Regions from separate parts of the Homo sapiens genome. Here all the other regions are linked to region 3. The links come from fine-mapping of genetic effects on gene expression. A gene starts in region 3. Each other region holds a variant in brackets. All regions are shown on one strand. Distances are between the middles of the regions.

Evidence for each region. PIP is the estimated chance that this variant, and not a neighbour inherited with it, causes the effect.
Region 1: its variant is the best candidate, but not a certain one, in a credible set for the expression of DIXDC1 in whole blood (INTERVAL, PIP 0.64).
Region 2: its variant is the best candidate, but not a certain one, in a credible set for the expression of DIXDC1 in whole blood (INTERVAL, PIP 0.63).

What each region holds. Positions count from the first base shown.
Region 1 is chr11:112,204,834-112,207,495 of GRCh38, forward strand. All of the region lies in intron 8 of BCO2 (beta-carotene oxygenase 2), which reads left to right. Among named protein-coding and RNA genes, the nearest start is that of PTS, 20 kb to the right of the region's middle. The variant C/T (reference allele first, on the strand shown) is at 1,411.
Region 2 is chr11:111,792,759-111,795,420 of GRCh38, forward strand. All of the region lies in intron 14 of ALG9 (ALG9 alpha-1,2-mannosyltransferase), which reads right to left. It overlaps LOC124902756 (a long non-coding RNA gene), which reads left to right and starts at 1,550. Exons shown (of 2, transcript XR_007062891.1): 1 at 1,550-2,662. The variant C/T (reference allele first, on the strand shown) is at 1,635.
Region 3 is chr11:111,936,016-111,938,677 of GRCh38, forward strand. It overlaps DIXDC1 (DIX domain containing 1), which reads left to right and starts at 1,328. Exons shown (of 20, transcript NM_001037954.4): 1 at 1,328-1,544. The coding sequence starts at 1,485. RefSeq lists a silencer at 1,105-1,204.

The DNA of each region.
Region 1 (2,662 bases), 270 kb after region 3:
GTTGTATTTTTAGTAGAGATGGGGTTTTGTCATATTGGCCAGGCTGCTCTCGAACTCCTGACCTCAGATGATCTGCCCACCTTGGCCTCCCAAAGTTCTGGGATTACAGGCTTGAGCCACCACACCCAGCCTTTAATAACATTTTCTTATTTTCTTTTATCTGGTTTGCTTTATTGTAATAATACAGTATATAATACATATGAAATACAAAATATGTGTTAATTAACTGTATGTTATTGGTAAGGCTTCCAGTCAACAATAGTTTATTAGTAGTTAAATTTTTGAGTAGTCAAAAGTTATGTGTGGATTTTCGACTATGTAGGGGGTTGGCACCTCTACCCCACTCCGTGTTGTTCAAGGGTCATCTGTATTTTTTATTTCTTTAGGAACTCCTATACTGTTTTTCATAATGGCTGTACCAATTTATATTCCCACCAACAATGTACTAGAGTTCCCTTTCTTCTACACCCTTGCCAACATTTGTTATCTCTTGTCTTTTTGATAATAGCCATCCTTATGAGTGTGAGGTTTTATATAGTGGTTTTAATTTGTATTTCCCTTATGGTTAGTGATGTTGAGCACCTTTTTATATGCCTATTGGACTTTCAAATTTTATTTTATTTTTTATTTTATTCTTTTAGGGACAGGATCTCACTCTGTTGCCCAGGCTGGGTGCAGTGGCATGATCATAGCTCACTGAAGCCTCAAACTCCTGGGAACACGTGATCCTCCTGCCTCAGCCTCCCAAGTAGCTGGGTCTACAGGTGCGTGGCACCACACTCAGCTAATATTTTAAAAACTTTTTTGTAGAGACAGGGTCTTATTATGTTGCCAAGGCTGCTGTCAAACTCCTGGGCATGCATGATCCTCCTGCCTCAGCCTCACAAGTAGCTGGGATTACAGGTGCATGGCACCACACTCAGCTAATATTTTTAAAACTTTTTTGTAGAGACAGGGGCCTTGTTATGTTGCCAAGGCTTTTCTCAAACTTCTGGGCTCAAGTGATCCTCCTGCCTCAGCCTCCCAAAGTGCTGGGATTACAAGTGTGAGCTACCACACCTGGCCTCTATTTTTGGAGAAATGACTGTTCAGGTCCATTGCCCATTTTTTATTTATTTTTAATTAATTAATTAATTAATTTATTTTTAACTTTTAATTAAAAAGTAAACTTTAATATTGAAAATGCAAACTTGGGGAAGACAGAAAAGATCACACACAAGGCTGTCACTTCACACTTGGAAGGTTGCGCAGCGGCCAGGCAGAGGCGCTCCTCACATCCTAGACGGGCGGCAGCTGGGCAGAGGTCCTCCTCACTTCCCAGACAGGGCGGGGGCCGGGCAGAGGCGCTCCTCACATCCCAGACAATGTGGGGGCCAGGCAGAGGCGCTCCTCACTTCCCAGACAGGGCAG[C/T]GGCCGGGCAGAGGCGCTCCTCACTTGCCAGAGGGTGGGCGGCTGGGCAGAGGCACTCCTGGGGCGGCAGGGGCGGCAGCTGGGCAGAGGTGTTCCTCAGTTCCCAGACGGTGGGCGGCCGGGCAGAGGCGCTCCTCACTTCCCAGACGGGGCGGCGGCCGGCTTTTCCCATTTTTTAATTGGGTTATTTGTTTTTCTGGTATTGAGTTGTAAGAGTTCTTTATAAATTTTGAGGCCAGGTGTGGTGGCTCACGCCTGTAATCCCAGCACTTTGGGAGGCCAAGGTGGGAGGATTGCTTGAGCCCAGCAGTTCAAGATCAGCCTGGGCAAGATGGCAAGACCTCATCTCTACAAAAAAATTTAAAAATATACAAATTTTGAGTATAATTCCTTATTGGATATGTGGTTGCAATTTTTTTCCCCAGCCCATAGGTCGCCTTTTCGTTTTGTTGATTGTTTCCTTTGCTGTGCAGAAACTTTTAAATTTGATGTCAACTTGTCAGTTTTTGCAAGGAAAAAACCTGATACAATATTGCAACTGTAGATCAATTTGGAGACAATTGACATCTTTACAATATTGAGTCTTCCAATCCATGAACATGGAATATCCCTCCATTTATTTGGGTCTTTTAAAATTTCTCTCAGTAAAGTTATAGTTTTCAGTATAAAGATACTACATTTCTTTTTGTGTGTTTTGAAATTATTGTAAATGGTATCTTTTAAGCTTTCATTTTCTGTTTGTTGCTCTTTATAGAAATGCAATTGATTTTGTATATTATCTTCATATCCAGAGATCTTGCTAAATTCACTTATTAGTTCAAATAGTTGATCCACAGATTATTTTGGATTTTCTATGTGCACAGTCATGTTACCTGAAAATAATGACAGCTTTCTTTCTAATACTTAGGGCTTTATTTCTTTTTCTCGCCTTACTGTACCAGCTAGGACTTCGAGTTGAATAGAAGTGCAAGATAGTGAATAGAAGTTGAATAGGTAGTGTTGAAAAATGTTTAATAATTCATTATTAAATATAAAATTGCTATAGGTATTTTTCTAGCTATCTTTATCAGATTATCCTAATAGTGCCTTTTAATGAATAAACATTCTTAACTTAATATGGCCCAGTATACAGTCTCTTCCTTTATGACTTATACGTTGTACATCTTGTTTTAGACATCTTCTCATGGCAAGGTAATGAAAATATTATCCTATGTTATCTTCTAGAGAAGTCAAGTATCTGTATATGCATTAT
Region 2 (2,662 bases), 140 kb before region 3:
AGCTAAGAAGGATCTATTTAACATCAGAGTGTGGCACTGGAAAAAAATCCTTTAGAAGACAAACCTCCTTTTCTCCTGCAGATTCTGGCTGTGATCTTTAGTAGCATTATCTATCTATATCACACAAAGCCACTAACTAATTTCTTCCAGAAGATGGAATCAGAAAGCAGCCAATATATGCTTAGGCCCATTCTCACCTCTAAGCTGGGATGGGAATATATTGTAATTTCTTTTTTTTCTTTTGAGACAGGATCTCACTCTTTCACCTGGGCTGGAGTGTAGTAGTGTGATCCCAGCTCACTGCAGCCTTGACCTCAAGGGTTCAAGTGATCCTCCCACCTTAGCCTCCTGAGTAGTTGGGACTAAGGTGTGTGCCACCATTCCCAGCTAATTTTTTACTTTTTGCAGCGACGGGGTCATACTATGTTGCCCAGACTAGTCTCAAACTCCCGGGCTCAAGCAATCCTCCCACCTTGGCCTCCCAAAGTGCTAGGATTACAGGTATGAGTCACTGCACACGGCCTGTGATTTTCTTTTTAACCAAAAGAACAAGCTGGCTTGAATTCTTCATTTCTAACATTCCAGCTGCTGTTCTAGATTATTTTATCATCAAAAGCTTTAATATACTAAGCATAACTGGGGCATTTTGAATTGTTATATTGTATTGTTATTGAAAAAAGGAAATCAAATTGGTAATTTGCCTTTATAAAAGGAAAGAGCGGGCCAGGCATGGTGGCTCACGCCTGTAATCCCAGCACTTTGGGAGGCCGAGGCGGGCGGATCACAAGGTCAGGAGAGCAAGACCATCCTGGCTAACATGGTGAAACCCCTTCTCTACTAAAAATACAAAAAATTAGCCAGGCATGGTGGCGGGTGCCTGTAGTCCCAGCTACCTGGGAGGCTGAGGCAGGAGAATGGCGTGAACCCGGGAGGCGGAGCTTGCAGTGAGCCGAGATCGCGCCACTGCACTCCAGCCTGGGTGACAGAGTGAGAGTCCAGCTCAAAAAAAAAAAAAAAAAAGGAAAGAGCAGTTGTGCACTGGAATGACATGTGCCTGCACACATTTATACACATGGAAACAAAGATCAGACTGATTCACAGACAACACTAATGCCTATCAAAACTCATACAATAATGTCTGTAATAAAGTGAAATGCCAAAGTACTGCCCTAGGGCAGCACAGGCAGCGTGATTCAGGGAGACATAAATATGTGCCTCTATCATGGAAACTGAAATACTTCCCCTCCCAGTGAGAAAGTCACTCAAGTGATTCAAGGATGAAACAGATCTGGGCAAAGCAATTGCCTGCACAGCATAATTAGCTCACGGCTCAGAATGTTTTCTAATTCAATTACTGGCCCTATCTATCAGGGCTGAGGAGCATTCGGCGGTGGAGATTTAAATCTGCTCTTGCTGACGTCAATGAATGACTGGCTGCCAGTCCCTGATGTCACCAGTTCAGCAGGCACAAATGGAAATGCTGGGTCAATTTTTTATTTTAAAAAGAAAACATCCTAGTATCCAGGTTTTCTTTCTCTTTTAAAAGACAGGATCTTGCTCTGTTGCCCAGGCTGGAGTGCAGTGGCATGATCACAAGTCACTGCAGCCTCGACCTCCTGGGTTCAAGTGATCCT[C/T]CCTGATCTGTCTCCAGAGTAATGGGACTACAGGTATGTGCCACCACACCCAGCTAATTTATTATCATTATTATTATTTATAGAGACAGAGTCTCACTATGTTGCCCAGGATGGTCTTAAAGCTTCAAGCAATCCTGTGGCCTCAGCCTCCCAAATAGTGGGACTGCAGGCATGAGCCACCATGCCTGGCCCACATCTTGTCCTGTCTTCCTTCTCCTCTCTTCTCTTCTCCTCTCCTCTCTTTCTGTTTTTCTCTTCTCTCTCTACCTATCTATCTATCCATCCATCCATCCACCCATCCATCCAAGCATTAATATCCCCTGTAAGCCTGTAATCTAAGCCCACTGCCAGTTATCTTTCCAGCCGCAGCTTTTTCAAGCTAGTTTCTTTCTCTCTTGCATTGTAGCTCACCTTTCAGTGAGAGATTTTCTACAACCTTTAGTGCAGAACTTGGCTTTTGCAGCTATCTTCAGTTCTGAAGAGAATCTCAGAATTCCTTCAAGACTTAGTGATAGTCAACCTATAGTTCCATATCAAGCAATTTAAGCACATCTCAAAAAGCTGGTATGGAGCAAAAATGTGACTGTTATTTAATAGTTTTTAACAGGAAATGCGGTGAGAGACATTATTCTAATGGTAACTAATGCAAAGGTGACTTACAACCCTGTTATCCAAAAGAGGAGTTCCATGCTGTATGTTATACTCCACCAGTCCCTTGAGGATGGAATTTTATCTAACTGCTCTATCTCTAGTTTTTAGGAAAGTGCCACAGAAAGTCCTCAATAAATAGTCTGTGAATGAATGAGCGCCTATGCTCTGACTCTTAAACCAGAGCATCTGGTTTACCTCCCACCCTTCTTACAATATTCATCTTCCACAAGGAAAAGGAAATATCAAAAATAATCTAAAGTTTTTTTTCTGTTCTCTTCCTAAGCAATTCAATCCTAAAGCCATTACGTGGGGCAGAGCAAAGCAGAAGTCTAGAGTGGGGAGCTGGGGGGCTGTGGTGGCCCATGGGATGTCAGAGT
Region 3 (2,662 bases):
GGACCTGAAGAGGTCATTAGGTTGAATAAGAGCCATTACTGACTTTTCTGGCTAAGGTACTAATCAGGATTTGAGGAGGAATCTGGGTCTTCCAGAAAATCATAAGTGTAGACTCCTAGATCCTTGAGCTGCCTGTCACTGATTGGCTGCGTCCTTGGACAAGGCCCTGACCTTCTCTGAGCCCTAATGCTCTGTAAACCCTTCCTCTCCATCTGGGATCACGAGGTGGAATGTAAAATGAATGTTTTTTCAGCTTCGAGTTTTCCTATAGAAACAAGAGTTTGCACTGAGTTGCAAATGACTAGTATTCCTAAAAATAAATAATCAAGGCTATGACTTGAATAGCTAGAAACAGCCTAGAATAGCTTTCTGTTTCACTTGAGGAAGCTTTTTACCTCTTTCAAATGCACCAGGACATTTTTGCAGTCTTTATTTTAATTAAAGCCCATTTATTTTAAAACACATTAAAATATGGGTTGTATATTTTAGCAGTTATTTTATAAAGAATGAAATAGGAAAATTTTGGAAAAGGCTTGGTCATCCTTGATGTTTCTGTTGCGATCCTGCGTGATGTTTAGCACTGTTCTATTGAATGTGTTCTGATACCATCAATAACTAAAGTTCTTTTTATCCTCTTTTCCCCCTTTCTTCCTCTGCTCTTTCTCTTTCTTATTTCTTTCCCTTCTGCTTCCTCTTCTTTAGCTTGACCTCACTGTCCAGGGCCCATGTGGAAAAAGGTTGCTGTTTTCGGTTAGTCTGGGGGAAAATCCTATGATTCACTCCCTTTCCCACCCACCTTCTGGTGGGCCGTTTGTGGCCTTAAGTTAGCAGTGTGTGTGTGTGTGTGTGTGTGTGTGTGTGTGTGTTGCGCACCCTCCCCACGGGCACACCCGCCTGCAAGCCTGGTGTGTGTGTGCGCGCGCGCGGCTGCAAGCGCATGCATACGCCAGCCGGGCCGCCTGTTTGTCAACGTGTGTGTGTGTATGTGTGTATGTGTGTATGTGTGTGTGTGTGTGTATGCACACAGCGCGCACATACAGCAGCACGTTTGCCTAAAAGCCGTGTGAGTGTGTGTGTGTGTAGCGCACGCACACACGCCCGTGCTGCGGCCCGGGCGGGGGGGGGGTGTGCGCGTGCGTGCGGGCGTGCAGCGCGCGCCCTCGCCAGCCCGCCTGGCCGTGCGGCTTTCCCGCAGGAAAGCGGGGCTGGGGGCAGCCCGGCAGCGCCGCTCAACCTAGTGCGCGCCCAGTTGTTTCCATAGGAACCGCGACCGCGCCGGGCCCCTCCAGCGGAGGCCCCCGTGCGAGCATGCCCAGTGCAAGCCGCTAGTTTGGCTCCAGTCTAGGTTTCCAGTAAGTGGCATGCGGGACTCCGGAGGGATCCCAATGAGCTGAGCCGAGAGCCTTTGTGTGCAGAGGGAGGAGGAGGAGGCGGCGGCGGCCGCCGGGCTGGAGACCCCGCCCGGGGAGCCCCCAGCAGGAACAATGCTAGCCTGCCTGACCCGAGGGAACTTACTGGACGTCCTGCAGGAGGGCTTCAATGAGGTAACTGTCCTGCTCCTCCCACTCCTCAGCTCCCCTCCCCCAGCGTCTCCCGCCCAGTCTCCGGAAGGGGTCCTCCTCCTCCTCCATCCTTTGGGGACCCCAGAGCAAATCGCCCCCAGAACCCCAAAGGGGCTAAGGTGGTACTTACGGTGCAGATGGGTGAACCAGGAGAAATCAGAAGGGCTGCCTGCCCACAGCTAAGCTGGGCCATGACCTTCCCTGGTAGCTTACCTGAGCCCAAGAGGACAGGACCACAAATTCAGAAATCACCTCCTTCCAGAAGAGGGGGTCTCCATCCTCCCTAGAGCTTCTCTCTCCAAGGAAATCCTCAGGGAATCCCTGGATATTTGGCAAAAGTGCTCATCTATATCAGGAGCTAACCAGCGGAGCCAAGGGAGGGTGGAGTGGTACTGCATTGGTAGAAAGTTTGAGAGGGCAGGGGACTGTAGATGGTCCATGTGAAGTGCCCTCTTCATGTCTGAATCTCTTTCTGAGTGCGGGGCAGTAGATTTCTCTGCAATCAAGGACATGGTTGTCTGAGAGGAGCTACTGAGCGAGAGGGGACCTGGGTCCTGGGTCCAGGGAGCCAGCGCGTGCACCGGTCCATGTGAGAGCAGAGGAACTGGGGCCTCACTCTGACAGGCAAGATGGGCTAGGGCCGACAAGGGGTCATTTCCTCCCCACTTGTTTCTCTTACAATTCTGTTTATTGCATTTGCTTTTCTTGTGACCCAGGAAATTCTGGTTTGGGATGCTTCCCCCTCAAGATTTGCTCCATACGTCTTCGACTGCAGCTAAGCCCTACTCTTGCGGGTTGTCTTAGCCCAGCATCCAGGGAAACCTAGGCTGTTAGTTGTGTCTTTCTTCATTTCTCTCTCGCTCCTTTTCCTTCCATCTCTCTCTTTCTTCTCTCTGTGACTCTCTGAAATTTAAGATTTTTAAAATCAGTTTTTACTCAACATATGAATACATTGTCTTCTTAAATATGAGCATTTGATAGGCAAGACTGAAGTGCCTTTGGCTCCCCCCACCCATTCCAGCCTTTTCTCCAGAAATAACCATTCTCATGAATTCGTGTATAAGATTTTATTTCTCCAGCTGCACTACAGACTCCTTCCT